Linked DNA regions of Homo sapiens: region 1 is linked to region 2. The links come from fine-mapping of genetic effects on gene expression. A gene starts in region 2. The other region holds a variant in brackets. All regions are shown on one strand. Distances are between the middles of the regions. Region 1 has its middle 100 kb from the start of CLSTN2. Region 2 holds the start of CLSTN2 (calsyntenin 2).

Region 1 (16,396 bases), 100 kb after region 2:
AACAACACACAATTTATCCATATAAGAGACCTGCACATGTACCCCCAGAACCTAAAATAAAAGTAGAAGAAGAAAAAAAATAAAAAACATAAACTCAGGTGAACCTGATGGACAGTGGGTTGTTCCCTCCCAATTTTCCCCTTTTCTGCTTAGTTGTTCTGAGCACAAGTTATTCCTATTCATTTGGTGAGGATTCCACCACTTGCAACCAATGTGCCTGGGAAGAGACAAACACACTTTTGAATCATAAACGTGTAAACCTAAACTTAAAATATTGTAACATCAGAAAAGGTCAAGGGTCGAGGCTATTTCAACTCTAGTATGCTGTCAGCCAAAGGGGAATCTGGTTTCTACCCTTGGAAAGGTCGTTCTATCCCAGAGCATCTCTGCTGTCTGGACAACATTTGTGCCAAGCAACCTCCCTAGAGTGAAAAGCACCAGGACTCCCCTGAGGCCCATGAACCAAATGTTTTTGTGCCTGAAATCTCCTTCCAAGGAACACAGGCCCTCCTGGCCCTCTGATTACACTTGATAGAACAAGATACAGTAAAAAAGAAAGCTTCATAATGATGATGCACTGCTTACTGCTGCAGCCATAAGGAATGAAAATCTCACTGTGGCCTAATTTATAAGACAGGCAGCCACAGCCTAATTTTGTTTCAAGGTAGAGACATTATTAACTTGTGACCCAACCTAGGAGCCAGGCAGCTGTGAAATGATGTTTCAGGTTAAAAAAGAAAAAAGACTCTTCAGAACATATTGCTGATAAAATGTTTACACTCAGTTTAACAAATTTCATAGTAATGAGGCTTTAAAAATGGGTTTCTCATGAATGGCTTTGTGATACTGAATGCAAATAAAGAAATAATGAGTTTGGAATTGCAAACAGATTACTTCTGTCCTGGAGTTGATGGTATCAGAACATTACCCACTGTAGCCAAACCCATAGGCACGGATTTCCAGAAGATCTTATAAACTGCATTTTGGCTCCCTTGTTGAGTCACATGGTTGCCACTGGAAAGTTCCATATGGCTGTAGGTGCTGTGGCAACAGACCAGACTTTTCAAACTAAAAAAAAAAAATCCTAGGAATTTGGTAGTTGGCCATGTCAGCACCATGGAAACAAGAGAAACTGAGGAAAGTGACACAACTCCCAAACCAACCTCAGCATATTTGGCATGGAATGGATCTGAAACAAGAGAGAATGCCAACTTTGTGTAGAAGAGGTGGAGATGCTATTTTAATCCAGAGAAACACAACAATACTTCTAAGCATGGCGGGGCTGGATGCCAAAGTAAGACCCACTTTCTGAATTGCCTTTTGGCCAGGACCCTGCAGACAATAGGAAACACCTATGTCTGTGAGGCTTTCTCTCCCACAGGCTCAGGACACACAAAAGAGGAAAAGGCTCAATTTAATTATCTATTATAATTCAAACTCACACCCAATATTCCTATGCAAGCTCAGTTACACAGCATGCTGCTGGCTGGTGGAAAGTCCAGAAGGTCAAAGGGCTGGCATTAGAGCAAGCAGGCAATTCTCATCAGGTACAGGGAATACAGCCACTAGAAGGACAAAACAATCAGGGCACTAGGTAGGGAAGCCAACAAATCCTGGCTTGCCTGGAACGTTCCTACTTTTAGCACTGAAAGTCTATGTACCAGGAAACCCCTCAGACTCAGGCAAACCCCTAGCATAAGGGCACTCAGTTTAGAAAAAAGCAGAAGCTGCAGCCTCCGCAGCCATTCCTGAATTAAACCAAAGGCAGGCAGGTAGAATTATGCAAAGCTCAAGAAAAGACTGGAAAGCCCCCTCACAAGCAACACTTACAGTGAATGTTGAGAGCTTGCAGAAACAAAGACGAAGGCATTTGGCACTGAGTGGAGGAAAACAAATGGATTTCCCAGGGCAGGCAGTTCTTGATCACAGAGAACCCACAGATGTGAACAGGTAAGGCTGCAGGAAGACAAGCCCAGGTTAACACACTGGTTCTGCAAAGTTCTGTGCAAGACTTGGAAATGGTGATCAGAACCCACTATGTATCTCTTACAGTCTATGCATAGAACTATAACGAGTATTTCTTTCTCCTCTTTGTGTGTGGATGAGGCTCAGTCATGTTCAATGTATTCTTTGGTCCACCTTACAAAGTACTTAATTAAAGAACACTTTTTGATCATGTCATAGGTGAATACCTGGATGAAGCAGGCTTGGCCTGATTATTAGAGTAATATTCTGGCTTAAATTCTTACAAACAGGATTTCATAAGCCCTAGGTAGGGCAATAGTGTTCTAGGAGGGCAAAAGTGAAGCCTCTGATGGATCAAAATGTGGGTTTACACATCATTCATTTCTGTCAGAAGCCACAGTGTAAAATCTTCAGCCATGACATAAAATCACCTTAAAAAAACAGTTTTTAAATACCACAAGACCTCATGTTGTTATTATATAAAAAATAAATATTATTAATTACCATTGTTATTAGAAATCGGGGCGAAGTTTGATTTATTATTTCTCTTACCCCTCCTGCCTTTTAAGACTCTGGCAGACAGAGGATATCACAAGGGATGCTAAGTAGAAGGGACCTGATGATGTTTTACTCACGGGCCAGATGGGTACACAGTAACTCCTAATGCACATGAACCACTGAACAAGCTGGGCTAAGGAGGAGATTTTCCTTCATTTGCCTCTCCCAACTTGAAGACCATAGGCCCCAAGAAGCTGAACAGAGAGTAAAGGTCCAGAGCTTGGCCTTGCAGTTTGGCCTCACCTAGTGCTGAGTGGAGAGCAAGAAAGAGTATTCAGGGCTGAAAACATCCCCTGAGGAGACAAGCAGGAACTAGAAGCTAGCCCCAGCTTCACTCACCAAGCATCCTATAAAGGCAAAAGGGGCACAATTGTCCCTGCACAAATACATCTACTCACCAAACCCTGGGCAGCTGTGCCAGATAGGACCTCATTTTCAAGCATTCTGAGGCACTTGTGATGCAGCTTGCTGTGTGTAAGTGTACTCTTAATAATCTCGCTTCACTTCCTGGTCAACACCTGGCCTGAATGTTAGCAACTCCACCGCCCTTAGAAGGATTAAGTTAGCAGATAGCAGAGAAAGAGAAGGCTCTTCTCTGCGAAAACAGAAATCAGGTGGGATTAGGGTTCTTCCCTGATTCCACCCAGGTTTTGTCTACTTATCTCATTGGGTCAACTTGCCAAGCCTGACCAGCCAGGGTACCTCTGTCCTTCCAAGGATGGAGGCCAGCAGAGGCACTCTACTCTCACAACATACGCTCATGCCTCTCATCACTACCCAGGGGCTAGAGGGAGGGGCAGTTCAGCTGTTACCTTCAGAAGCCTCTGAAATAATCAGAACAAGGCATTCAGTAAAATCACTCCAAGTCCTCACTGTACCCTGGGCCAAAAATTTATCCTGATTGTATTTTCCATCTCAAATTTCAAGCCACACTGTCCAATATAGCTCAGTAGAGGAAGCTGTGCCACAAACATCACATGACAGCATAAAAATACCCCAATGAGCACAATACCAGCAACTTAAAAATACCCTGAACTTCAGCCTTCTGGAGCCCTCTCCTTTATTAAATTCTAGGAGGAAAATCAAAGTTCAAAACCAGAGCTCCCTTCCCTTTGCAAATCAAAATCCAAAGAAATGAAAGGCCTTTCCTCCCTGAGACTTGGAGTCTCCCTCGTCTCAACCAGGGTAGCTTCCCTGCTGGAGTCTGAGTGTCTCCTTTGGGAGCAGCTGCTCACTGCGTGTCTACCCAGAATGGGTGTGACTCCTGAAGCAACAAGGAGGTCGGACTTATCCAATCCCAAGGCCCTCATGTGTCCTGGTTTGCAAGGGATATGAAAGTCAATAGGGTACACAAGAATATCGCAGCCCCAGCCCCAAACCTACCAAATTTAGCTGAGCAACATTATGTTCTCAGAAGCCATGTTTCTGTTGCCAGCCATGGGATGTAGCAGATGCTTGGTGACATCTGGGAAAGAAGAGTTGGAGAAAACAAATGTGAGACATAGAAAAGATTCTGAATTTCAAACTCACTACAGTTGCCAATAAGACTGGCATTTGCCCAGGTGCAGCCGAGCCTCCAGATTTTACTTGGGGTTCCATCTCCTTCAAATTTATAAAAACTCCTAATTCCCATTTCACGTCTGAGCCTATGTTCCCGGCACCCCTGGGGCTGTTTCATGTGTTTGGTCTCCCATGCCCTTTGCTCCTGCAAGCAGGGTTTGCCCAAGCCAAACACATGTGGCTCTTCTCACACTCTCTTTTCTGGAGTTGTTACCTGCAGCCTTGAATGTTTCCTGGCCTGGCCATGTTGGCTGCTGTTCTGCCTCCAGTCCAGGCCCTATGAATCCTGTCAATTAGGGCATTTTTCTTCTTAGTTTTCTTGACTCAGCTATATGAACACTGGGAACTGAAGCTGCTGTTCACATTTCCAGAGAAGACCATCTCTTCTGCCCTGGGCTCCCTTCTGAAACCTCACTTCTCCTCATCTTCTGAATTGTTCTTCCTGCCACCTCCTTTCCTGGGGCAGTGGGACAGGCCTCTCGCATTCCATTTCCCTCTGTCTGTCATTCTCTGGCTCCTTTCAGGCTCAGTTTTAAAATGAATAACCTGCCTCTTCAGTCAGCCTCTTCCCTTCTCTACCATGGGCAGGGCTAGTATTCTCTTTTTTTTTTTTCTGCCAGATCCTGGTGCTTTATTTTTTTATTTTTTGTTTGTTTATTTGTTTGTTTCAGACCCAGATGTTTGTGTTTCTAGCCTTCGACTGTATTTGTCAGGTATGGTCTCCCATAGCAAGAGAGAAAGCCAGAGTCAGAGGCAAAAGTTTCCATTTTCCAAATATGTCCTGCCTACCTTTGTCACTCTGAAGAAAGGAAAAACACCAGGGGGTATCTTCTCTACAGCCGTTCATCCAACAATCTATAAAGGCCTTGCTACGGGCTAGGAACTGCCCTGGATAGTGGGATACAGCAGTGATCAAAAAGAAGTCCCTGCCTTCCTGGAGCTTACACTCAGCAAACCAGTCCAACATCTAACCTGGACTTCATTCAGCTATGATGGTTTTCCTACCTGGCTCTGCTACTTCTTTTCCAGTCCAAGCTTCACATGTTTTTCTAACACATTTCTTCAAAACCTGTGCCGGGACTGCCTTCCCACTCAGATAAGTGCTGCACCTTGAATTTGCCTTCATATGCTTGAGTCATTCTCTTGGGCTATTCTCATCTTCCCTTCTCAACTCTATGCAGACTGTCTTTAACCTCCTTGTATAGCCATCTCATCTTCAAAGAGGGGTTCCCTAATTGCTTTTATCATGGACTCTTTCTAGCTAAAGCTTTTAATTCTCTTCTTAGCCATAGGATTCATAATAATTCCATCTTACTTTTGACACATCAATCCGGGAAAATGATATTTACATTATATAGCCAGAATTCTCATACCTGTTTGTCCACTCATGGATTAAAATCTGCCACTTCTCTGAGGAACAACCCCACATTTAGGACCCTGAATATACCGGGATGCTCAGACCATATGTAAGGAACAATCCAAAGCTGGTTTGAGAGAATAAGGAAGGAGGTGGTTTCAGGAGCCCAAGAACCAGACACAAGGATCCCAGGTTGACCCATAAGAATCTTTCTAGGTCCTAGATGCAGACTCCAAAAAAAAAAATGTATATGAGACAAGTGAGCCTGTGTCTCTTTCCCATACTCTAGTTCTCAATTCTCATGTGGAACATGGATATTTCTGGCAATTCTGAGTACCATGCATCTCATACAGGCTTTGGGTGAGTTGCTATATCCCACATCAGCCAAACACCATGGATTCCCAATCAGCTCACATCCTCTTTCAATCAGGATAGGCTACGTTATGTTGCAGTAACAAAAAGCCTTCAAATCCCAGTAGCCAAGCAAGTGCTTATTTCCCACTCACACTATATTAAGTCACAGGACATCTGTGGGAAAAGAGGGTCCTTTGCTCTATGTTTTCTTCATTTGGGACCTTGACTGAGGAAACGTCTCTGTCCTTCTGCAATTATAAATTATATTCATTTTCATCAGCATCATTATTTATATCTATAATATAAAAATGAACTGCACTTTCAGTCAAAAGACTTTACCTTAGTCCTGGCTTCACCACTCAATAACTATGTAATTTTGTGTCAATCACTTTCCCTGCCTGGGCCTCTGTTTCCTTGTAAAATGAGGGGATAAGGTCACAAATAATCTCTAAGGCCACTTAAATTTCAAAAATTCTATGTTTCTTCTACACTGGAAAGGATAGGGAACTAATGTTTATTGAGTATCCTCATAAGTACTCTGTAAAGCATAAAGATTCTCACTATATGGATTAGAAAACAGAGGCTTAGAGAAATTAGTAACTTGCTCAAGATCACACAGATAATAAGTAACAGGTGTGGGATTTGAACCCATGACTGTCATACTTCAAAGGATTTTTCTTTTTGTTGCATTTCATTCCATACATGATCTGACATTACACATACAGAGAAGGAGGATGAAGAAACGGGTGCAATGAAATGAGTGAAACACCTCGCCTCAGGGGCTAGCCTTGATGGGTAAGTGACCCATGGTATTTTTATTTCTTTGTATAATTCAATTCAATTTAACTTAGTAACAACAGTATTTAATACTTATTAACTGCCAGCTCCTGGATGAAATGCTGGATACACAAACACTAATTATGCCTGAGAAAGTAGGAAGCACACATATCCGTTAGGGAAATACAAACTACTCTGCATATTTCAAGAGGGAGGAATTTATCTCAAGAAATTCAAAACTCATAAAACTGGTGGGAGAGCTGGGGAAGCAATGGGAATGGAAAGCCGATGCTGGCTTTCAGGAAATCAGCAAGTGGGGAAAAAAAAGAAAAACATCAAAAACTGCCATCTCTCCATGCATCTATCTGCCATTCCTGGAAGAAATAATGATTTGTTATTTGCTTTTGCCTTGCAAATCTCATGCGCCAGTCTGTCATTTGAAGAATTTAAGCTGGAACTTTTACCTGTCTTGCCTCAACCCAGCCCCTGTTTTCTATCACTCCATGTTCTGCCGGCAAAGGAATCTGGACAATGTGCTTTCCAGACTTCCAGGCTCTGTGACACAAGAACAAGCTTAGAACGTCAGGAGGACCATTGAGTATCAACAGACAACAGCTAACACAGAACACCAGTTCTAACTGGAAGAGTCAGGAAAGTCTTCTGAAGGGTGACATCAGCTGAGCTTGAAATAAAATTCGAAAGGAGAAGGACCCTCCAGAGAAGTGTGTGAGTAAAAACAGTGACAAACGCTCCTAAGGAAAGTGAATTTACTGAGTTCAATCAGAACATGAAGTGGTAGGGAATTGGGCTGTTTTCAAGTGAGGTAGGTTAGCAGGGACAAGATTGCAGAGGACCCAATAGGCCATGCTAATGAGTTTGGACATTATCCAATAAATAATACAAAACTATTGAAGGCCTTTTAAAATAGAAAGTAATGGAATCTGTTGCATATGTTTATAAAGATCCCTCTCTCTGTAGGTGTTGAAAACCATTTGGGGAGGCAATAGGAAGACCAATGAGATGATTTTCCCATCATCTTAGGTGCCAGGTGATTGGAACTTGGACTTGAGCAGTGGCCATGGTAATGAGGACAAGAGAGCAAGTTTGGGAGACAGGACACAGGTAAGGCTGAGTGATTCGTGAGTTGTGGGAGTGAGAGAGGAGTCAGTAGGCTTCTGGCTTGGGTAATTAGAGGATGATGGAGCCATTCACTGAAGTTGGAACTTGGGAGAAGGAACAGGTTTTGGGGGTAAGGGAAATGGAGATTGCTGAGCTTGATTCTGCACAAGTTGAGTTTGACATGCCTGGGAGATGAAAAATGTGATTAACACCAACAAAGTGTGAAGTGACATCTTACCAGAGATAAGGTCCTCTGCTCAATGCCAGGAGCAGTAAGCTGCATAAGGCAAGCCCTGCCTTGGAGGAGCTCTGAATCCAATCAGCCCCTGAATGTCTGTGGTGCCAGAGGAGCGTCGGCAACGGAAACCATTGGGGGAATGTTCAAACCTCATTTAAGATGAATATTTTCAGTTCTACACTTCTACAGTGTCTCTAAGCAAAAATTCTCTGGAGACTTTCAAAAGCTCATTAGAAATGGGTATTCATTTTGCTTTCCTTCTGAGCCCCAAAGTTTTGCTACAAATCCAGGAGGAGAGGAGAAAGTTATTCCCTGCTTGATCTTGATGAAATCCCTAATGGTTAAAGAAAACAAATAATCAACTAGGCATTGAGGAATTTTAAAAACAGGTAAGACCCGGCTCAAGTTTTGGTCAGCCAGAGTCCACTCTATGTGGCAAGGTTGATGGCTCACTGGGGCTGAATTAAAAGTAAGAGTCCACTAAACCACTGGTGTGGGGATAAGGGTGACCATTTGTCTCCATTTTCCTTGACTTACTAGGTTTTGGCTCTGAATCTCCCATGTCCTAGGAAGCCCTTTGGTCCAGACAAACTGGGACAACTGGGCACCCTAGGTGGCAAGAATGAGGCTTCTCTCCAGACTCCCCAGAGCAGTTCCAGCTGCTCCCCCCTGACCTGCCTACCAAGCACTTGCCAACAAGGAGAGTGAAAAGGTGCCTAAATACAATCAATGTCAACTCCACTTTCTCTGTGAAAGCCTGGCTGACTGCCTTATTTAACGTGCAGCATCACCCCCAGAACACCAATCTCCTTTTCCTGCTTTGTTTTTCAAATTTACTCCATGACGTTTCTCAATTTCTGTCATAGCATGGAACATATGTCAGTATTGTGTCAGTTATTTATTGTCTGTCCTGCCCTACTAGAATGTAAACTCCTTGAGGGAAAGATTCTTCAGCGGTGTTTGATTCCTAATGTATCACATTTGTCTGGCACACAATAAGCCTTCCGTGTACATTTGTTAAATAAATGAATGAGTTAAATACACTTTCAATCTATAGCATTTTAGAAAGAATATGACCAATCTTGACTTTTTTTTTATTCAAATGGGACTAAGGAGACATTTGCACTATTTCAAATTCAAAACCGAATGTTGACACATTTAATTTTGCTAAACTCGCCAAGTGTAGCGGCTTTCTCCTGCCAGCAAGTTACATAATCTTTCAGGCACACATTTGAAGCACCAAGCTAACCTTCGCG[T/C]ATGGCAGCTGTGGAGCCGTGATTGTGAGGGGGCGTCTCTGAAGGGCCGGAGAAGGCAAGCCATCTGCTGCAGCACCAGAGACGGCCTGGGGCAAGGATGTCAGGCCTCCTGCGATGCCTCATCTTCCAATTAGCTCTCCCCTCACTGGCTGAGTGGGGCCTCCAGGCTTGTACAGCTGGAGCTGCGGATTGAATAGAAAGGTCACCAGCATAGTGACCCAACAGCCTGCCTGTGCTGGAGCTGCCATGGGATTGAGTGGGTGTTGGCATCTCCTACATGAAGGGGAAAGGAAGCTGTTTCCGTAGTCCCATTCTACAAGCCTGAGGGGAAAGTGGGAAATGCTCGAGGGAGCAGGCCGTTAGGTGTTCTATTTTCTATGCCAGGCTAAAATGGTGCTGCCCAGCTCCTCAAACACACTGTGCTAGTCTCACCGCTATGCTTTTGACACATGTTTATCTCAATACCTGCAATGTCCTTCTCCCTGTTGATAGCCTGATGAACATCTTTTTACCCTTCAAAACCCTGCAAAGACCTCACCTCTTCTGTGTGAACTTCCTGCCCATCTGCCAACAGAATTTGCTTAAACTGAGCTACTTCAATATAATAATAGCAGCAATTAAAATTTGCCAGGCACTTACAATGTATAATAAAATGTGTAATAGTACCCTGGCCATAGGTGTGTTTCCATGTTTAAGTCAGCTAATATATATACATCTGTTGGCATGTAATCCTCATGAAAGTGCTACAGAAGAAGTATTACTATCTCGGTAATGCCCCAAGCTTTATGCAATGCCCCATGCTTTCTGCATGAGCCCCAAGCTCATGTATGAAGCACTACACTGTGCCTTGCACATGACACCACCACCTTGCACTTTACTGCTCCACCTTCATTTGGCAACACAGCCATTTCCCTGTTAGACGTCCCTCCTTTAGGTCAGCTTCTGGGGTCAGGTTTGTGCCTCTTTAATTCTACATGTCTTGGGCCCTAGCTACAGTGCTTGGCCTGGAGTGGGTGCCAAGTAAGCATTTCATGAATTGAACAATACAGGTGAAGAGATGGCACAGTGGTTAGCTGGCCCAAATTGACCTTGCTAATTAGGCTAATTAGCAGTATCTGAAAAATTATGATGTGTTTGAATCTGCACTCACCAAATGGGCTCACATTTTCTTAGTTTCCTGTGATGTTATGATTCTTTGAGAAGGATCAAGCCTCCCAAGGAGGCAAGACACTGACAGTCCCTGTCACCTGAACCTCCTAGAGGTCCTCTGTGGTCCTGTGATACTGAGTGTTTGACACAGGGCCATGCACAGAGTGGGAATCAAACATACAACCACTGCCCTGCAGAAGCTGATGATCTGGTTATAAATGTATATGAACTCAGGGGTCAATGAGAGAATGTCCCCAAAGGGCTAGATCTGTGTGGGAGCCCAGCCCAAGGCAATAGAAAGCTATAACCAGAAAAGCTTGTGGACCCAAGCAGTTAGGAGGCAGGAGTGCATGCATGCTACTACACCAAGGGCAAATTTTTCTTTCCCCATGTGTCCTTGTCACACACCCTGTCCACAAGGCATCAGATAATCCAACTAAGAATAGAAGAATGAGAGAAGACAGAATTCAGGTAACATTTTAAGCTTGACACATAACAAGTGATACACCTGATAGTCTACTGAGTCCAATTCTGTGGGTGATCCAGTCCTTCCCCTCAGACACATGGATTGCTGGAGAACCTACTGTTCCCTTTCCTATAGAAAATAATGGCATTCAACCTGGCCCAGCATCAGCACCACAGGAGGGCTGTATCCTGGGATGTCGGGAAACACTGCAGGTTGCCTGGGATTCCTCTTCTTTCCCCTAGCTAGAAAGATCCAGCTCATCTATGCTTGGCCAGGACTTTTTTGTTCTTCTCTTTGGCAGAAGAGCCAGAACAGGGGAGTACAGGTGGTACCTGCTGCTCTCCTTCTCCTGAGAACCCACCTGTTTGCTCATAGGAGGACAATTTTGAGATATGACTGAAGATGGAAGTCACCACCCTGACAATAACAACTGTGATAATAATCACATTCATATAGCACCTACCCTGTGCCAGGCACTGTTCTAAGCACTTTACATACAGTAACTCATTTACACCTCACAATGACCCCTGAAGTGTGTATGTATTACTATCTCTATTTTATAGATGAGGAAACTGAGGCACAAAGAGACAAAATATCCAAGGTGTCATCTAAGGGGCCCTACGACAGTCCTCCTTAACTCAAAATACCTCTTTCACTAATAGCTAATTTTATAATTAGTGCATACATTTATAGGATAAAAGAGCTCTTTTATGATAAAATGTTCCTATTAGGAAAAACCTAGGGTAACCATTACATGGATAAGAGAAGTGGCTGATACTCCAGACTTATGAATTTACTCCCTTCCCCATTATGTAACAGCAGTGTGACTCTGAACAAGTTGCTGAATTTCTCTGAGCCGCTGTGTAAAAGAGAGATAGAAATGAGTCATCCTGAGGATTAAATGAGACAGTCCTTTTAATATGCTTGGTATAACATGACATTCAATAAATGCTGACTGCTGTCATTATTAATATTATTGGTGTTATCTTGTTAAGAGTTTGTTTCTCTTCCTTTTCTCAGTGTCCCTAGCAGAGAGCAATGCCTTCCTGGGGGCAGGAGAGGTGCAGTTTTTATAAGAAGCGAGCAGCAAGAAATGATTTTGCAATCTAATTTTCTGCCCCCAGGAGGCCTGACATAGGACAGGGGACGGAAGAGGGTTTCCATGAGGACACTGATCCTATAAAAGAGGTGCCAGAAGAAGTAGGATTTTACAGAACATGGTGGGATGATCCAGACAGAAGCTTGGCCAGCTTCAGAAGTGTGTGGTTGTGTTTGGGCTTTCTAAGGAATGTAGGAGGCTTCAGCAGCTTCCAATGCTGCCAGCCTTTTGTTCCAAGACACACTGCAGACCCAGACAGAATTACCTTCACTTCAGCAGCAGCTGGGTGCCTGAAACATCAGTCCAAGGCAGAGGGGAGCTTCTCTGCTCCCACTTCCAGGTCTCTAAGGGTGTTTTTCTTTCCTTTGGGAAGACTATACTTCCAGGAGCCAGTTTTGTCATGAGGCCAGAGAGGAGGCGGATTTGACCAGATGGCATTGTGTCTTGTTACCAATAGGTTCTTATATAAGGTCCTCATGACACATCCCCTTCTAGAATTATGAGCCAAGAATGGGGGCAGTGCATACTAGGCACCCTGCTTACAATAATTGCTTTCATTTTACAGAAGATACACCCTGTACTCAAAGAAATTCGTCTTTCCCAATGTCACATCTGAATCTCAGATCTTTGTCTATGTCCAAGGCACTTTTTCCCTCCAGGATGGCACAGTGCTTCCCCAGATGTTTACTTATGCAAGGCTTGCCATTTTCAGGCACGGAGGACAAAACAAACAAGTGTACTTTCCTTTTTTCTTGGGATGCCATGAGCTTTGAGCTAAATTTAGAGTCACTATCTCTCCTACTGATTTCCTGGTATAAGTTCCTCCTTCCTTCTTTTATGTACTTTCAGAAAGCCATTTAGAAAATCTTTGCCTTAACTCTCCTCATTCATAAGTTTCCTTAGATTCTTTATGGAATATATGTAGCATGAATAACCATTTTTAAGTATTTACATCTAAACTTAGTGTCTACAAGGGCCCCTGATACAGACAATGTGTGTTTGGGGAGAGAGATGATCTGATTAATAGAATATTCTGTGCTGCTATAAAGACACATGCACACATATGTTTATTGCAGCACTATTCACAATAGCAAAGACTTGCAACCAACCCAAATGTCCAACAACGATAGACTGGATTAAGAAAATGTGGCACATATACACCATGGAATACTATGCAGCCATAAAAAATGATGAGTTCATGTCCTTTGTAGGGACATGGATGAAGCTGGAAACCATCATTCTCAGCAAACTATCGCAAGGACAAAAAACCAAACACCACATGTTCTTGCTCATAGGTGGGAATTGAACAATGAGAACACATGGACACAGTAAGGGGAATATCACACACTGGGGCCTGTTGTGGGGTGGGGGGAGGGAGGAGGGATAGCATTAGGAGATATACCTAATGTTAAATGATGAGCTAATGGGTGCAGTACACCAACATGACACATGTATACATATGTAACTAACCTGCACGTTGTGCATATGTACCCTAAAACTTAAAGTATAAAAAAAAAGAATATTCTGATGGATAGAGATATAAACAGGCTGTATTTGCAAGTGGAGAGGGAGGGTGGCAGCTTGCATGGTGTGATCTAAGGGGTGTGTAGGAGCCTGATGTCTGTGAGATGTTCTCCCTACTTCTGGCTGACATCTGATATGCCACCTTCAGAGTTTCATCCTTTAGCTAAAGATTTTCCTTACCTGTTAAACTTGAAATCCCTCAGGAAATGTGGGAGGTGAAAAGGAGGAAGTGTCCCATGCAAGATGATTTCAGACATGGCCAACTTGGTGGACCTCTTAGCTGCTTTTCTTAGGGTCATGGTCTACAAGAACAGGGCCACCCTAAGGGGTTCATTGAGGCCCCATGCCTGCACTGTGCCATCTGCCAGCACCATACCAAAGGGTGTTAACTGATGCATCCCGACTCTTCCTCCCAATTGCTCCATCCACAACCTGCAGTCTGCTCTTGCCCCTGCCAGTTTCTGACCCCATTCCTCAGGCTGCTATTCCTCACACTATCAAATTGGTGATTGTTTTAGTTCATTTTCTGTTGTTTATAACAGAGTGCCTGAAACTGGTAATTTATAAGAAATAAAATTTATTCTTATAGTTCTAGAGGCTGAGAAGTCCAAGGTCAAGGGGCCACATCTGATAAGAGCCTTCTTGCTGGGTGGGAGTGGGGAGACTTTCTGCAGAGTCCCAAAGCAGTGCAGGGCATCCCATGATGAGGGGGCTGAGTGTGTTAGCTCAGATTGCTATTTCTTTTCTTATAAAGCCACCGGCCCCACTCCTGTGATAACCCATTAATTCATTATCCACAAATGAAATAATACATCCATGAGGCAGAGCCCTCATGACTTAATCACTTCTTAAAGGCCGCACCTCTCAATACTGCTACTTTGGGGATTAAATTTCAAGATGAGTTTTGGAGGAGACAAACATTCAGGCCATCGCAGTGACATTTGCCCTCCCCATCTCAGTTTCCACATGCTGGGCCCTGCTCTTCTATGCCTGCAGCCCTCCTGTCCTCAAGCTGCCCCAGCAGTGTCCCCGTCTCCTCAACCTGCCTTTCAGGGGTGTCCCAGGCCCCAGAATCCACCCCCTCTCTCTTCACCCTCCATAGAACACAGCTTTCGTTTCCCTCAGTGCTCTACTTCCAGGCAACTGACAAAAGGAAAGTAATGTGTTTGTCTAATGTGCACAGGGAATTGGATGGCAGCTAACATCTTACCATGTTATCTCGGGTAGGATGAAGAAGGAAGTGGGGTGGCAGGATGTCTTCCCACACATGGTGAACTCTCACCTTTACCAGACACCCCTTCTTGGTAAGGGGAACCTCATTCCACCCAATGGCTCAAGTCAAAACAGAGGAACCACTCCTGCTTACTCCTCCAAATCACAGCCTCTATCTAACTGATCACCCGATCGAGCTCTATCCCCCAAATTCCCTCACCTGCCCTCTATCTATCTCCATGGCCTCCATCCAAGGCCAGGCCTCCAGCACCTCTCCTCTCTCACTGGATAACTCATGATAGTCTCCTAACCAGTCTCCCGCTTTCCCCTTGACCTAGTACAATCAGTGCACCACAAAGGAGCACAGATGGTCCACTTTAGAGCACAATATACTCCCAATCCAATTCTTCCCAAGGCTTCCCACTAATACCGATTCCTCACTCACAAGGCCATGCTTGATCTGGCCACTGCCCACCCACCTCTGATCTCGGACCATCCTTCACCCCCACTTCACACAGTTCCGCTGGATTTTTTTCTTTTCTTTTAACTTGGTAAAATTCATTTTCAGCTCAGGGCCTTTGCACTTCCTGTTTTTCCTGCCTGGTCTCCACTCACAGTTGTCTCCTTCTTGAAGCTGAGCCTCAGTGTAGATGTCTCTCCCCAGAGAAGTTTTTGCTGAACACCACTCTCCCTAGACCTCTGTCACCTCACCCTGCTGTGTTATCATCAGAGTACTTAGCACTTCCCAACATGGTCCTATGTATTCATTGCCTGTCTCCCCCAGCCAAAATGTAAGGTCCATGTTACAGGGCCCCTTTCACTGACGTATCCTCATGCCCAGTGCTCACTCATGTATGATGGATGTAATAGAAGGAATTAGGCCTTGGGTTAGACAGCCCTGGGCCTGAACCCTAACATGCCCTCTAAAATCTTAGAAAAGTCTTTTAATCCCTCCAGGCCTCTGTTTTCTCCTTTAGGAAGCTGAAGACAGTAATATTTCTCACGGGCTGCTAGGAAGATTGATTAAAGAAATTGAGAGCTGTATAGGGCCTATTGAGGCCCTAAGTACATGAAGACCCTCAACAAGTAGTCACCTCTCTTCCCTTTCCTGCTCCTTTGCAGGTTTTGGGGGCTGTTGCTTGCATACCTGGTTATCACTAAAAGGTGTGTACCTAAGTAAGTGGGAGCAGAGAACCACACCTGGTTAATGGAATTAGAGATCTATAGTGGGTTGGATAGTGTCACCCCAAAATTAATGTCTACCTGGAACCTCAGAATGTGACCTAACTTAGAAATAGTCTTTGTCCCAAGCATAGTGGCTGACATCTATAATTCCAGTGCTTTGGGAGGCCAAGGTAGGAGAATCACTTGAGACCAGTAGTTCCAGACCAGCCTGGGCAATGCAGTGAGATCCCAGATCTACAAAAAATAAAATAAATAAATGACAAATAACAAGAAAAAATAGGTATAATTTAGATAAGGGTCGAGATAGGATCGTACAGGATTAGGGTGTGTACTAAACCCAGTGAGAGTATTTTTAAAAGAGACAGAAAAGTACATGCAGAGACAAGGAGGAAAAGCTGATGTGATCATGGAGGCAGAGACTAGAATACTGCACCTATAAGCCAAGGAACACTGAATGTCACTGACAACCACCAAAAGCTACAAGAGGCGAGGAAGAATTCTCCCTCAGAGCCTCCAGAAGGAACCAACCCTGCTGACACTTTGATTTCAGACTTTTGTCCTCCCAAACTTTGGGGAA
Region 2 (16,396 bases):
CTGAAACTAGACTTTCTAGATTTAAATCCCAGTTCTGCTGTTTTACTACTTGGGTAAACTGGATAAGTAGCTTAACCTTCCTTGCCTCAGTTTCCTCATCTGTAAAGGGGATAATAAGAGTGCACATCTCACTTGGTGGTCAGGAAGGCTGAATGAGTTAATATCTATAAAGCAGTCAGAATAGTGCTTGGTGCATAGTAAGTTCTTGAAAGATGAAAGCATTAACTATTTGGAAATTTCTAGAAAGTTCACTGACAGGAGAGAAGGCCAGATGGGCAAAATCGTAGACTTTTACGCCAGGCTGGAGAGTTTGGGATCTATTTTGGGAGGTCTGGGGCTTCCCTGGACAGGTTTATCAGAAGGGGTATGGCTGCCTGTTCTAAGAAGGAGGTTTGGGTTGTAAGGATGAAGGCAGAAGTTCTCTGAAGATACCTCCAGTCCTGGCCTTTGCTCTGTGAATGCCTGAGCCCCTAACTGAGGTTATGGTTGGGATGGGAGAGGTTGGAGGTGGGTGGCTTTTGTGTACCCACCCTAAAACTGAGACGAGCTGATTTCCTTTGGGATGGGAACCGGTAGCCTGTTCCAGCTCCCATCCCCAGATGGTGATAGCACCCCTGGGGAAGTGACTACAGAATGTGGCATGAATATTAGATTCTAGGTGCTGGTGGTATCGTCTGTTGCCTGTGGAAGTAGACACCCCAGGATCTCAAGGCACCATGCTGTTTGGACAATGGGCATCACAAGCAGTAATAACCTGTGAGGGAGGGAAATCTGAGGCAATTCCAGAGTGTTAAGCTATTCTTAAAAACCTTACAGACCTTAGCGTGGAGGGTGAAAGATAGAATTCATGACTGAGATGGAGTTTCTTGCAGGCCTGGTGGGACTGGCATACATGCTGCCACCTTGACAGCAGCATAATGGGAGGGTTGGAGAGGGGGTCAAAATTAGAATTTAGTGCTTTCATTTGCACAAGATGCTAAACAAGGCAGAAGCAATGGGAATTGAGGAGAGGTTCTAGATGGTGATGATAGGATCAACCAGACATGAGGAAGGATGGGTTGTGATATTTGTGGAGAGACAAGCATGCTGGAGGACTCTTGGGGGCTCTGGCTTGGGTGAATGTATGGATGATGTACCTTTCACCCAGAGGCCACAGCAGAAGCAGTAGATTCTTGGAGGAAAAATGAGAGCTTAGTTTGGGACATATGGGGCTGCGGCATCCTAAAGGAAACAGATACTGAGTGAGCCTTGGGTGGGGTAGGAGGCTCAAAGTGAGCTAGGGAAAAAAAGTATTGATCAGGGGCATCTCTGGCCAATCTCTGGGGAGGACTGATATGAGTAGAGGGTCTTGAGCTGGAGACAAGCAAGATCCTGAGAAAGTATTGGAAATAAGTTGCCTGTCCTTAGAGTTAGAAAACTGCTCAGTAGTGAAAGAAATGGGCTTCAAGTGGCCATGGTCCAAGATGTCACCTAGCTCACCACACTGGCTCGCTGGTGCTGGATTGCAATCAACTGCACACAGTCTGACCCCTTGTCCTGATTTTTGATCTGCTGCTATATGCCCTGTAATGTGCATTTACCAATGTGTAAGAGGGGTATCTGAGAACAATACAATGGGCATATATAAAATCCTGCCGTGAGAGTGGAAGAAAAGGCAGCCCGATCAACAGTCTGGTTATCTGCTATTCCTATATGATCTCCTCCCGCCCTTGCCATGCACACCTCTCAACATCCCCTTCTTATCCACTTTGTTATCTAGCCACCTAATATGTTTAAAAGTATGTATCCTGGCCTAAAACGGAGTCAGAAGAGGGCAATATTTAACCCAAATGAATAACCGAATCAGGAGAACTGTCGGTACAAAGGCCAGCCAGCTGGGATAGTCTTTCTGGTGCAGGAGACCCCTCCAAACACATCTGGGACTATACAGTGCAGAAGGCTGCCTCCTCTGCTTGAGGCCAAGCATGACAGGAGGTGAGGAGGGCTTCAAGCTGTCTGGATGAGAAGAAACAGGTATTGCTCACTTGGAGAAGTGAGTCAGAGAGTGAGGCTTTCAGGGAAACCGATTCTTTCAGCAATTTTGAAGTAAAATCCAAGCAAATATTCTTGGACAGCAAGGCAATGCCTTCCAGGGCAGCAGAGCCTCTCTGACCTCACTCAGAGCCTTCCTCAAGCAGACATCACATCATTCTGAATAGGTAAGCCTGTGTGAAGAGGGGAACCCATGCCTACCAGTGTATTCTGAGTTTGTAACCCCAGTTTTACCACCTCTGAGCTCTGAGACTTTGGGCAAGTTACCTCACTTCTCAGTGACTCAGTTTACTCCTCTGTAAAAATAAGATTGTAGATTTACCTCCTTCATAGGGTTGGTACGAGGATCAAACCAACCGACATATGTGAAGTGCTTCAAGATAGTGCTTGGCACATAGTATGAACTCAATAAACATTCACTGTTTTATTAGCTCTGGAATCTGATGCAGAAATAATATTTGACCTGGCTGAGCTCCCTCTTCACTCGTGCCTGTGTGCCAATCACTCTTACCACCTTGTATTTACCTGTCCAGTGCAAACCCCTGCCCCTGACATATGCTTACCCAATGCCTACCCACCCATCAACATCCCTTTTACTTTCTCCATAAGTCTTTCCTGACCTCTATTGTTGCCAACTTCTTCCTTTCCTGCAAGGCTTCGGGGGGTCTGTGATGCACAATCTATGATTTTCCCATAAGTCACCAAGTTCTGCAATAGTTTGTGTGATGTGTGATGTGCAGTGTTTGCCCTAGACAGAGTGTGAACTCTTTGATAATTGGAACTTGCTTTTATCTTTTTGTTCCCCTCACAGAGAATAACAGGAGGCTGAGAAATAGTAATTGGCTGAAAAGGCTAGAGAACAGGACCTAGTGCATGTCTGGAAGGGCTAACTCTCATTCTAACCATTCTCCTCTGACCAATACTCCCTCTGGCCTACTGCTTGTTTCTTTCCCAAATCTCAGAGCATGATCCTCTGTCCTACACAGTGCCAGGATCTTCAGCTCAGTGCTCTTCCCCAGCTCAGGCCTCCCCATGGTCTACCCTCAAAACCTGTCTTTCCCAGGGAACCATTTCCACAGGGTCCAATTAGTCATGGGTTAGATAACAGCTAATAAAACAATCATCGATTTCAAGCTGTTATTTGAATATCATAGCTTCAGTTACCCCATTCCATATAAACATGTATTATCACAAAACTTGTCAATACCTTAAACAAAAAAGTATGCCTTTCTGTTTTCTCAGGTAGCAGGGCTTGGAGGAAAGTATGAACTGGGCAGGAGATCTTTCCTTACAACCCAGATCACACCACATAAGCTCTCCCTCCAGAGACCAGAACCTCCCACACCTCTGGCACTAGCACATGGAGACAGGCTTGTTTATTTACTTAGATAGCAAATATTGCTGACCTTTACTCTGAGCTGGCCCTGCACTAAGTGCCAGGGCCTTTGAGATGAATGAGATGGAGCTCTGGCTTCAAAGACATCCATAGACTAGTGAAAAAAAGCATGTCTTTTTACAAACAAGTCAAGCCAAATGCGTGTGTATGCATGTGCATTTACATTTATATATGATATTTACACACAGGTGCATATCCACACAAGGAGAGAGAGGCAGAGAGAGACTGAGAAACAGAGGAACGGATAACAGTTTGAGCTGAGAAAAGATATGAACAAAGCTATTGGATTTCTAAGAGATCAGAAAAAAAAAAATTCACCAAATCTCAGACACTAAACTAACTGTTCAAGTGATCAATAATTAGTCATTGTATATTTAGTGCATTTTACATGCCCCAAACTGGGCTAAGTGCCCTGACAACTATTTTACAAGGTAGATCTCTGTATCCCCATTTTAGAGATGAGGAAACTGAGTCTCAGATGGGTTAACTAACTTGTCCAAGATCATCTAACTAGGAAGCAGTAGGGCCAGGTTTGGAACTCAAGTTTTTCTGGCCATATGCCCAAATTTTACTTTATAGAGGAGAAGGAAAAACACATAAATTGTCTATGTCAAGAAATGACAGCACTAGGGATTACAAACAGGTGTGTTCACCAAGCAAATCACTGCATACTGCTCATCTCATATCTTGAGGCAAGGCTCTGGAGATACCAGGAGAGTCAGAATGAGCCTCTAGCACTGGTCTTTGAGCCCTGAGGACTAGAGTCAGACAAGGAAACACAGGCATGCAGGAAAGAGAGGCAAGTCACTCAGAAGTAACCAGCCTGGGAAGGTTCCTTATGGAAGGCCAAATCTTGAGTAACAGTGAAAATTGGGCTGAGGAAGGTGACCTACTAGCTTGATGCCCAGAGAATCCAAGAGAGGTAAAGGGCACATTCCGGTCCAAGAACCACAGGCGTTTCAGGATGGCAGCAGGTCAGAGTACACTTTCTGATGCATTGCTGAGGGCTTTTTGGCATTTGTGCTTCAGTTGGAAAAATGACTCTGTTATACCACTAGAAGACACCTGCTACTTACCCAAAGATGACTTAGAACAATCCACCATAAAAATTCCACACTACCTTTGCCCCTGCAGGAAGTTCTGCAGTGTGCAATCTGGAATATTCAAGGATGGTTTTTGAATCTGTGGGAGAGAGAATGAGGTGACTGCTCTAAGCGAGAACATTGGTTTCCATGGTGAGAGCAAGGTCCGTTTCCCTCACCTCACCTGCATGCCCTTTTAAACAGCCTTAGACACTCATACTGTGCTCTTCTGTGGGCAGGACCACAAGGGCTCCTGGGTAACTCAAAGATGCAAACAGCTCAGCTTCCTTGTGGTCCCTAGACCTGCTTTCAAAACCACTGGGAAGACTATCTGACAAATAGGGGGCACTGGGTATAGTGACCTTTATATTCTCATCCCAGTGCCACACCCTCTAGCTGGAGGTCTTGGCAAGTTCATTTACCCTCTCATAGAATTTGTTTCTTCATCTGTGAAATGGGCTAACACTGGCTCTGCATGTGTTGTAAGAGTTAGAGATTGCCCATGTAATGGGATTAGCAACAGTGCCTGTGACATACTAAAGAGGGACTCCATACACTGAAATTACTACAATTACACCATACTGTTGTTATAATTCTGCTCCATCCTCCTCCTTACCTATTACCACATGCTGCTTTTGTAAACTTTGTCTCTGCACTCCCATCTCCTTTGCCTGTGTCTCTATCACAGTCAATACTATACTTTGGACAAATTCTCTCCGCTGCCACTCTCTTAAAATTTTCACATAAAAATCTTGTCTCTCCAACTAAAACAGAAGCTCCTCAACCCTAAAACTTAAAGTATAATAATAATAAAAATTAAAAAAAAAAGAAAGGTAGGGGTGGGAGGGGTGGAGGGTGGTCCTCTGCTACTGGCTCAGAACCAGAGCACTGAGCAAGGCTCTTAGCACACAAGGCGGGCACTACAACAATTGATGGTCTATACTTGAGTATTGTTCCAAATGACCTCTATGCCTAGATGTTGGGAACTTAAGAAGGACTGTGTACCAAGTCCTTGAGGTCTTGGGACCACTGACATTTTGCCAAATTTAGCACAAACTTTGAGGTGTTGTCTAGATTGCATTGTCTTCCTTCCCTTGGATAAGACATGTCTTTCTCTGCCTCCAGAAACTCTTTGGGTCCACAACACCTTACCAGCTTTACTCATAGAACATGAGCATGTGATCTGGTCTCTTCATGGAATCCAAGAAGTATTTATCTTTTTTGAATAGCCAAAATATGTAAGGGTGAAGGGAAGGAGTTATAATTGCCTGGCCACTGTGTGATTTCTGAAATTGGAAATATGTCTACACTGAAAGTACAGTGATTCTGTGAAAACCCCAGGTAGTTGTCCGGGATTAACTGCTCGAGTCCCTAAAGCAAGAAGCAAGAAGCAAGAAGCACAAAGGCAGAACAAGCTGTGCACCACAGACACAACATCTTACACAAGACTGAAGCTGGGAGCACATGCTTCCAGACAGTTGTTTGGAGGGTGCATTCAACTCTGTCAGAAAGCTTGACTCCAGACTCCCAGTGTTTTTCTACACATGAATACAGAATTGTACGAAAGAAGTATCTGGTTTTTTGTTCAATCTTCACACGCCTTCCTGATTTTTTTTTTTTTTTTTTTGTGATGGGAATAACAATGGTATGAACCTTAAAAATGGCAAAGTCAGAGGCAGGGTGCATTATACACAAAACATACAGCTTTATCATTTCAAACATTCTTCAGAGATCATATGATTTGGAAACATAAAATGCAAGTGCATTGTTATAAGGAAAGTCAGTCCTGTAAATACTAACTAAAGTGTCATAATAAATGTCTCTGTTGTAATCAAATATTACACATTTATCTTGAAAAAAAAATCAGCAGCAAACAGAGCTCTTTGCAGCCCCCCAGTGGTTGGAAGGGGAAAGAAGCGAGAACAAGGGGAATTCGGACAGTTAACTCTCAATCTGCAGGGCCAATAAACTTTTTACCCTGGAAAAACAAATGTCTAGTTTGTTTGTTTGTTTGTTTGTTTTTGAGACGGAGTTTCATTCTTGTTGCCCAGGCTGGAGTGTAATAGCGCGATCTCGGCTCATTGAAACCTCTGCCTCCCGGGTTCAAGTGATTCTCCTGCCTCAGCCTCCCGAGTAGCTGGGATTACAGGTGCGTGTCACCACACCCATCTAATTTTTTTTTTTTTTTTTTTTAGTAGAGACGGGGTTTCTCCATGTTGGTCAGGCTGGTCTCGAACCCCTAACCTCAGGTGATCCGCCCGCCTCGGCCTCCCAAAGTGCTGGGATTACAGGCATGAGCCACCATGCCCGACCTGACAAATGCCTAGTTTTAACCAAAAAATGAATATGTTCTAAGTCGGATGTTGGTTAAAATGCACATAATTATCCACATAAAGTGAATCATTGAAAGCCTGGGGTTTTTATTTTCCTTTTTTATCTCTCTCCTTCTCTTTCTCGCTTACCTCTATGAAGCTTCCCATTCTGACCTGAGAACTCAGCCGTGCATTATTACTACTCACACCAGATCCTCTTCCCAAATGATTTCTTCCCTGTTCTGCACTTGCTGTGTGCTTCTCACCCTCCTTCAAACTCCCGTTTGCAGACATCTGCTTATATCAATTACTGTGCTACAAAGTGATGGGAAATCTCCTCCCCCCCACCCCCCAAAAAAGTAATTTGCCTGTTTAACAAAGTGTCTATATTGGGAAAGCAGGGGGGAGATGTTTGGAAGTTCATTGTTTTTTATTCTTGTCTTCACCAAAACAACAGTCTCTCAGCTTGATCCCTTCATATCAGCCACTTCTTTACCGCACTCTGAGATATTTTCATAACGAGTTTTTCTCTCATGAAATTTCTCATTTCTAAAAATAGAAACTGCCTGTCAAAGATACACCAAGAAAAAAAATGCTGAAAAGAAACAGAATGCCTGCTTATAAAATATTTTCAAAACGATGACACCAAAAAATTTAAAAATTACAGATAAACATAATCTCCCATGTTCTTCTCAAATATATCACTCCTAAGTTATTGGAGGGCCAGTTTCTAAAGCCCAGACAAGGCGAACTGCCTGCCTCCAGCTCTCCCCAACCTCCAAGAGTAATGCAGCCTGATAGGCATTTCCTCCCCTAAGCTAGTGGTCAAGTGTAGCTCAAAGCAAGCGTCCGAATCAGGCTGTCTCTAACAGGGAATCTATTTTCTGACAGGCGCAAACCCCTCCGCCCTCTGATGATTGCCAGGCAGGATTTGGGGACCAAGTACCCCTCATTGTCACCTGGCGGATTTGGCCACAGTCCACAAACCAAACGCAAGCCCTACTTATGAACAGCGCAGAGAATCAACAAGTTATCACTAAGCTGTGCGCCCCAGCTAGGATCTGCCACAGCCTCCCCTGAGCCCACCACTGTTCCCCACCAGCTCTGCTCTTCCCTCGCCTCCCCACCCCCTGCAAGCACGTGACCTCCTGTTTCAGACCCGGCCCCCCACCCCAGAGCTCCCGACGCTCCCAGGCAGCTGTCAAAGTCCGGGGTTCGCCGGCTTCCAGGCTCGCCTGACAGAGCCAGGCGTTCGCTTGGATCTAGCTTCCTTCCGGGCGGGAGGCGCGGGGAGGTCAAGCTCTTCAAAGGAACAGGGTGGGCAGGGGAGTGGTGCCAGGTTAGGCTCCTCGGTCCTCGGTAGTCAGAGCGGAGTAGGAAAGGCAGCGGGGAGCCTCACATCCCGCGCTTCTTCCGGACCCCGCCGCCTACCCGGAGGGTACACGTTCCCCGGGGAGTCAGAGACGCCCTGGGGGAGCTTGAGGAGTGTCAGCGGGGCCTTCCCTGGAGCCTACAAGTTTCCACTCCATCCCCGAGCTGGGAGACAAGTCACAGCTCGGCTCCCTCCTTGAAAGCACCGCCGCTGATCCTTCCCCCAGGCAGGAGCAGACACCTGCTTGTCCCCACGGCGCGCCAGCGCCCTGCTCTAGCCGTCCCTGGGCCAGAGCTCGAAACTCACCCACTGCGCTCCCACCCCGGCACAGACAGCCCTCAAAGTTGTCCGTACTCCCCAGACCTCGCCTTCTGCTCAGCCCCCGGACCCCGCCCAGGGGTTGAGTTGACGTCCGCGGGTGGACCTCTCTGGTCCGCTGCGCAGGGAACTGACTTCGGGAATCCAGGGCGCACAGAGGCCAAAGAAGCTGCGGCAAGGGAGGGTGGGCAAATCCAGCTTGAGCCTAGGTCCTTGCCGCTTTCACCCTCAAGCCTGCCCTGCCTCCCTCCTGGGAGAAGAGCAAACTTCCCCAGCACCCACCTTTAGCCGCGAGGAGGCGGCGCTGCCGGCTGTCCCCGCCACCGCCGCTGCCGCTCCCCACGCCCAGCGCCAGCAGGAGCGGCACCCAGCACAGCCGCCCAGGCAGCATCCTCGCAGCAGCCGCCAACGAGCTGCAGCCGCCGCCTACTGTCCGCGCCGGCTCTCGCCTCCCGGTGCCTGCCGCACCGTGGGCCGCCTCGCCGTGCCCGATGGGTGCGCTTCTAGCGCTGCCGCCGCGGCGCTCGGCCTCGGGTTCCCGCCGCTGCGCCGCTAGCTCGCCGGCAGCAGCCGCGCTCACTGGCGCGGACCCGGAGCGGCTCAGGCGCTCACCCCGGGACGGCCCGTGACGTCACGGAGGGAGGGAGGTGGCTCGTGCATATTCATGAACGCGGGCATCGGCGCCGGGTTCCGCGCTCCCCGCCCCAAGGCCCCGACCCCCAACTTTCCTCAGCCGTCTCCACGCTCCGGGGCCCTGTCCAGGTCCCCCTGCCCAGTCGGGACCGGGCCCCCAGAGGACCCTGGTGGGCGGCTCCGGAGAGCCCTCCAGCCCCGCGCCTCCACTCCGACTCTCGGAAAAGCTGCCGCAAGGGATGGAGGGCTCCCCCAGAAAGTGGCCACCCGAGGCCTGAGGGTCATCTGGGGTGGCGCGAGGGACCCTGACCTGCCATGCCCTTTGAACTGATATCTGGGCGGAGAGGACTGACGGGCGTCGCTAAGGGTCTTGCCCTTGGCTGGGTCTCTGGGCGTTCTGCGTCGACTGGTCTGGGGAGGGCGCCAGGCGCACACTAGAGCAGCGCCTAGTGGTGCTAGGGGTTGTCGGGCAGAGTAGATAGCCTTGGACCTGGATGGCAATGGCAGGGCTCCGCGTCATCTCCGAGAAGCAGGGGCAGCCGCGGCTCTTAGAGGCTGATAGAACAGCTAGATCAGAAAACTTGGGGTGCTGGGCCTGCTGAGGCTGCAGTGGCGGGGGCGGGGTGTCAAACTTAAAATTCCCTGCGGTATGGTGCCATGCAAGAAGTTGCCACCTTTATGTTGTCACTCCGCATCTCTAAGAACAGGCTACTTGACGTCATGCATTGTAAAATCTCGTGCCGTTGAGTATTGTCAGTTCCCTGAGTGCAGGAGCCAGTGCATATCTTTGCATCCTCAACCATCTCTAGGCCGTGAAAAAATTACAAAGGTACTCAAAAAAAAAAAAAAAAAAAACAGTAAGGACTCAGAATAAATCCTTGACCATATTTACCTAAATGAAATGCCAACATCACACACAATGCAGGGTTTATGAGGAATAGTTTGGAAATAAAGTAGATATGGAAATACAGAAACAAACAATATTATTTATTTAGTCATTGATTCAAGACGTTTGCTGAGCATCTAGACAGGCTGTATCACCCTGACAGTGAGCACTGGATTAGTCGTTGGAGATCCAAAGACAGAGGAGAGAGTGGGTCCTATCCTCAAAGCTTTTGTTCCCTGCTTGGGGAGCCAGAGAGGGCAGCAAAGGCAATTACAATCCCTTGTAAGTGTTATGGTCCTGCACATTCTTTATGTTGCTAGCTATGAGCCTATACAAATCAATTAACAAAATGTATATATTGCAAGAGTGCCTAAACAGCATCCTCTAATTAATAACTGTAGTTTGAGGTACTCAACAAAGCCATAAAATCCATTAACAGCACTCCTGCAGCTCAGCCTCCCTCTGCTGCCCTGGCAGCTCACTCAGAGCCTCTGCAGTGGTGAAAGCCAACTCTTCAGGATTTCAGGCACCAGGATGTGCTTGGGGACAGCAGTGAATCATGGTGGCTGCATGGGGCTCAGACCCATGTGGGGCTCTTTACCTTCAGGTCTCCTTTAGCCCACAAATCAACATGTGCGCTATTATTCTCATTTCACACATGATGAAATAGAGGCTCAGGGAAGTTAGGTAACTTCCTTGTTCAGGGTCAAAAATCTAGTAAATGTCCCAGGCCGACACCAGGACCTTGCCTTTGTCAGATGTTGGTTTCAGAATCTAGAAAAGATGGCATGGAAAGGTGGTAGCTGACCCAGGGAAAATAAAAAAGCCAGAAAATAGAAGAGAAATGTAAATTTGTCTCATTTTCTTCCATTTATGCTCCACCCAACTACATATCTGCCCTCCTCCCTTCATTTTCTCTAATAAGTAGACCTATCTTACTGACTTACCTGCACTGTTCTTTGATGTCATTATACTGGGCTTTGTTAAGATCACTGATTGGTCCTAATAATTTTATGTGAAGTTTCAAATTCAGACCAAATAATGAGAAACAGGGGGAAATGTAGCTTATTAGGAAGCATCTCCATGGAGAGATAGCCAGGAAAGAACACAGCAAAGAAAAACACTAGGGGGTGGGCCAGTTACCAACAGGCACAAAATTGCTAGCCTCCATCTCCTCCTCTACCAATGAGGGTAATAACAATGCCTATTGTGGTAGATCAAGTGCACTAATGGCCATTTGTCCATGCTTCTCTGAATCTGTTTCCTTTGGATGTGCCCTCCCACCCCAACTCTGAGCTAGGCCATATGATTTGCTTTGGTCAGTGGGACAGTGGCATGCATGTTGCTTCTTCCTGCCTTGAATCCCTGCTGCTGACATGAGAACAAGCCTAAGCTAACCTGCAGAAGGGTAGGAGACTGCATGGAGTAGAACTGAGCTGTTTCAGACAGCCAAGGTCACACTAGGCTGGTCAGAACCAACTGGCCTACAGGCTGGCTAACCACAGACACATGAGCAAGCCCAGGTAAGCTCAACCAAGATCAGCCAAGCCTGGCTCACATCAGAACTATCCAGCTGACTTATGAGATACAATAAGTGGTTTTTGCATTAATTCATTATGTTCTGGAGCAATTGATTGAGCAGCATTATGCCTACTTCATAAGATCATTACAAGAAGTAAATTTTAAAAATATGTTAAACAGTATGTTGCACATAGTCAATGTTCAATAAATGTAAAAATGTCTTCCCCTTATCCTACTTCCTATATCTCTGAAAACAAGTGTGCCAGTCACACATTTGATTTGATTCATTTGGGGAACAGGCAACAATGACCTGCCTTAGAGGAGATAAAAGTAAGTAAGTTCAGCCTTAGAAATACTCAGACATAAGAGCTTTTAAGTCCACATCATTTGTATGGAGCACTACTGTGCTGTCTGCTTCTGCTGGGCCATTGCAGATGCAAAAGATGGGGTAAAGCAACCTAACAGTTAATGAGTCCTCATTCTTTCCATGCCAGGCTTTACAATGGAGGATATACATTCCACACCTACACCTTCTTTAATCTTTGCAACAAGTGTGCTGTGGTTTGAATATGTGTCCCCTCCAAAACTCATGTTGAAGCTTAATCCTCAATGTGGCAGTATTGAGAGGTGAGACATTTGGCAGGGGGCTGGTTCATGATGGCTCTGCTCTCATGAATAGATTAATCTGTGCATAGATTAATATATTAATGTGTCAATAGATCAATGGGTTATCATGGGAATGGGACTGGTAGTTTTATAACAAGAAGTAGAGAGACCTGAGCTATTACATGATGTGATGCCCTTTGCCACCTCTACAGAATCCACATGAACAAGAAGGACCTCACCAGATTTGGACTCTCAACCTCAGGCCTCTCAGCCTCCATAATTTTAAGAAATAAATTTGTTTTCTTTATAAATTACCTAGTTTCAGGTATTCTGTTATAAGCAACAGAAAATTGACTAAGACAATTGTGCTATTTTCCCTATTTAATCATAATCAGATTACTGGCTCAGAAAGTTTGAGCAACTTATCCATATTTGCATAATTGTGCAGAATATCAATTCATGTCTGCTTAATTCCAAATTTCATCTTTCTCCCACACATCATGACTTTGGGAGAGGCATGCGGGATAAGTAAGCAACAAAAAATAGTTTCAAATCAGAAAAGATAGCTTTGGGGATTTGATTTTTAAAAAACCTTTATCTATCACTACCTCTGATTAAGGACCAATTTAAATAGCCAACTGTCACCAAAGTAGAGATACAAATCTCTGAATATCCATTACTTATTCTGGACTTAGTATTGTGGCATATTCCTCTAAAGATTTTATTCAAAAAATGGTGAACAGGGCCGGGCGCGGTGGCTCATGCCTGTAATCCCAGCACTTTGGGAGGCCGAGGCGGGCGGATCACGAGGTCAGGAGTTCAAGACCAGCCTGGCCAACATGGTGAAACCCCATCTCTACTAAAAATACAAAAATTAGTCAGGTGTGGTGGTGCGTGCCTGTAGTCCCAGCTACTCGGGAAGCTGAGGCAGGAGACTCGCTTGAACCTGGGAGGCAGAGATTGCTGTGAGCCGAGATCATGCCACTGCACTGCAGCCTGGGTGACAGAGCAAGACTCCATCTCAAAAAAAAAAAATGGTGAACAGGATGATGTAAAGCTTGGTCACTCTAAGCCTCAAGTCTGGGGCACCACCTGGCAGTGTAATAATGAATCTCAGGTAATTTATCTGGGTCAATAGTTCTTAATAAATAAATAACTCCCCTATTCCAGAAAATAGAATCTAACTGGCATAGGCCCCATATAAACATAGCCATTTCCTCTCATTTCACCAGGATCATTAATGCGTTGCCCAATTAAGCACCAAAACACAGGCCCTAAATAATTTAAGCTGGGTAATCAAAGAAAATAAATAAATTATATATACTTATGGAAACTTATTTTTAAAAAGAAAATTAAACTGAGGCTTTCTCCATGACCCAGATTTAATTCAACTAAAAGTACTTAACTTTAAAAGAAAGGTTGAAAAGCTGATCTTTACAGAACTAGAGTCATTTGTCATTCTTTTTTCCCATCTTGACAGGTAAAACTGGGGCTTCATGACGCTTGAACAACTGGACAGTTTGCAGATTTTTTAACATTGTTCTTGGAAGTTTTTACGCTGTTGCTGCCAAAGGAACTTCTTTTAAAAAAAGTTTAGGCATTTCTCTTCAGGAAAAAGTTAAAAAAAAAAAAAAAAGCTTGTTCACAACCAAATCCAGTTCAGCATTGTTTGGACATGAGTGTTTTATGCTTGGCAAGGTGGAGTGCCCTGGCTGAAAACAAAGATATCATTAATAATAGCAAGGCATTATTCCAGTACACTTATGTATACTTTCCTTGGAATTTTATGCCCTGTGGTGTTTTGCTTGTTTGTTTTTTTAAGCAGCCATAAAATTCTGTGGCTCTTCCTCCATTGAGAGATGGAATCTATATCTCTTCTCCTTGAATCCAAACAGCCTTGAATCTGAGCATTGTTTCTATCAGTAGACTGCACCAGCAGTGATGCTGTGTGACTTCCCAGACTAGATAATAATGGTGATGCAGCATTTGCCTTGCTTGCTAGGATGCTCACATATGGAGGCTGGAGCCTCCATGTAAGAATTCTAACTACGCTAAGGCCGCCATGTTTTAAGGATCACAGGCCATGCAGAAAGGCTGTATATAAGTAGTTTACAGCCCCAGCTGAGTCCAACATTTGAGTTATCCTGAAAGTTCCAAATAATTCTTCCCACTATGCCCTGCCCAAATTCCTGACCCATAGAATCCATGAATGTAATCAAATGGTTGTTTATACCACTAAGTTTTGGTGTCATTTATAATACATCTAGAGGAAATAGAACATATTTATTTTCATTTGTTCCCTACAACAAAGGCTGGGAAAAGATAAATATTATATTTCGAGGCAAGTCATGTGTAATTAGTCCTATTTTGTAGCTCAGATGTTGAGACTTGTAGAAGCCAAGGCAAGGAATAAGTAGAGCTTAGTGGAAAGAAAATGATTTCTAGAATCAGACAGACCTAAGTTGCAAACCTAGCTTTCCTGTTTTCTAATGATGTCTGACTCGAGAAAGCTACTTACTCTGAACCTCAGTTTCCTCATCTATAAACTTAGACTAATGAAGCAGGTTGTTTTCAGAGTAAAATGAACTGTAAACTGCTGAATTCTTTCCATGCCAGATGGTAGGGATACAGTAAATAGGGCCATTGATAGTTACAATGGACACTCACCCAGGGCCACACAGGTTGTGGATAGCCTTTTGCCTGACTTGATCCAGTATTTGGTGTTTTCTATGCAGGTAAAACGTGGACAGATATGGACACACATGACACCACAGAAGCTCCAGCCCCACCAGCACCTTTGCCAATCCTGCCACAGGAAGCACCAGCCCACGTGCCCTGCCAGAGCAATTCAGATGTGTCTCAAGTACCTAAATCTATCTGCTCTGTGTCATTCCAGGGCTTTGTTCCACTAAGGGAGATGAGAAGGAACCTACCACTTATTGAGCACCTACGATGAGCCAGACACTGCACATATTACTTCAACCCTCCAAAAGTCTAGAAAGGTGATTTATCATTTCCATTGGACATCTAGGGAGATTAAGTTTCAAAGAGATTCAGCAACTTGCTCAAAGAAATTAAGGTGCACTGCTAAAAATGAAGAAGCTGGAATTTGAATTGTCTGGGTCCTGTCTGACTCTGAAGCCATGTTTTTCCAGCCAAGTGAGGCAATGTGTCCAGCCTCCACCACAGCTGTAGGTGCAGGGTTTGTACAGAGACCAAATGCACTACCCTGACTCATTCTGGCCATAATCCCAGGTTTTACACAGAAGTCGTTGTCTTTCAGTGATTCTCTGAAGTTTCCCAGGTTGGAATCCTGTTTCCCCACTGTCTCAGTTGGTACTGGAGATCTTCCCTAGAGATGTTCCTTTCTCTTTTATTTCCTTTCTGTCCCTAAGGGCCTGACTCAAGCTCCACACCTCAGGCTGTCTCCTGACTCCATCCTCTCCTGCAAGGCTTTCACATAACCAGTGGTTTGATCATCAATACCTAGCTCTCCTACACTGCTCAGATACTTTCCAAGACTCATCAAGACTTACTGCAGAAGGCCAAAGTTGCTTAACAAAAATTCAAGTCCCTCACCAGCCTGGCCTCAACTTCCATTGATAACCTGATTTCCTGTGACTCCATTTTATGTAAACTCTGCTCCAGCCAGTCTGGGGACTCCACTGTTTTTCAATAGGGACCACACCAATCCTGCTTCTACACCTTTGCTCACGCTAGACCCTCTACTGTAGTGGGGCTGAATTGTGTTTCTCAAAAAGTCTTGTGTTGAAGGTCTAACCACTGGTACCTCAGAATATGATTCAGAATATGACTGTATTTGAAGATATGGCCTTTAAAGTGGTAATTAAGTTAAAGTGAGGTTATTAAGGTGGGCCTTAATTTAATATGACTGGTGCCTTTCCTTCTAAGAAGAGGAGATTTGGAAATATAATGTGAAGACAGAGAAAAGACAGCCATCTACCAGCCCAGGAGAGAGGCCTAAGAAGAAACCAACCCTGCCAACACCTTGATCTTGAACTTCCCACCTCCAAAATTGTCAGAAAATAAGTTATTAAGCCACACAGTCTGTGGTATTTTGTTATGCAGCCCTCCACACTAATACACCTACCTACAGTCTCTTCCTCTTTCTCCCCAAATAACCTTCTCAGTCTTACTTCCAAAATAAATATTTTTTCTACCTCCCCAAGCACTTGCTTATCTTAAAGTCTTCAAGAGGCTTCTCATCACTCTTAAAAT

What was found. PIP is the estimated chance that this variant, and not a neighbour inherited with it, causes the effect.
Region 1: its variant is the best candidate, but not a certain one, in a credible set for the expression of CLSTN2 in lung (TOPMed, PIP 0.75).

What each region holds. Positions count from the first base shown.
Region 1 is chr3:139,823,886-139,840,281 of GRCh38, reverse strand. No RefSeq gene overlaps it. Among named protein-coding and RNA genes, the nearest start is that of CLSTN2, 100 kb to the left of the region's middle. The variant T/C (reference allele first, on the strand shown) is at 9,185.
Region 2 is chr3:139,927,881-139,944,276 of GRCh38, reverse strand. It overlaps CLSTN2 (calsyntenin 2), which reads right to left and starts at 9,092. Exons shown (of 17, transcript NM_022131.3): 1 at 8,794-9,092. The coding sequence starts at 8,902. RefSeq lists silencers at 8,945-9,004, 9,045-9,094.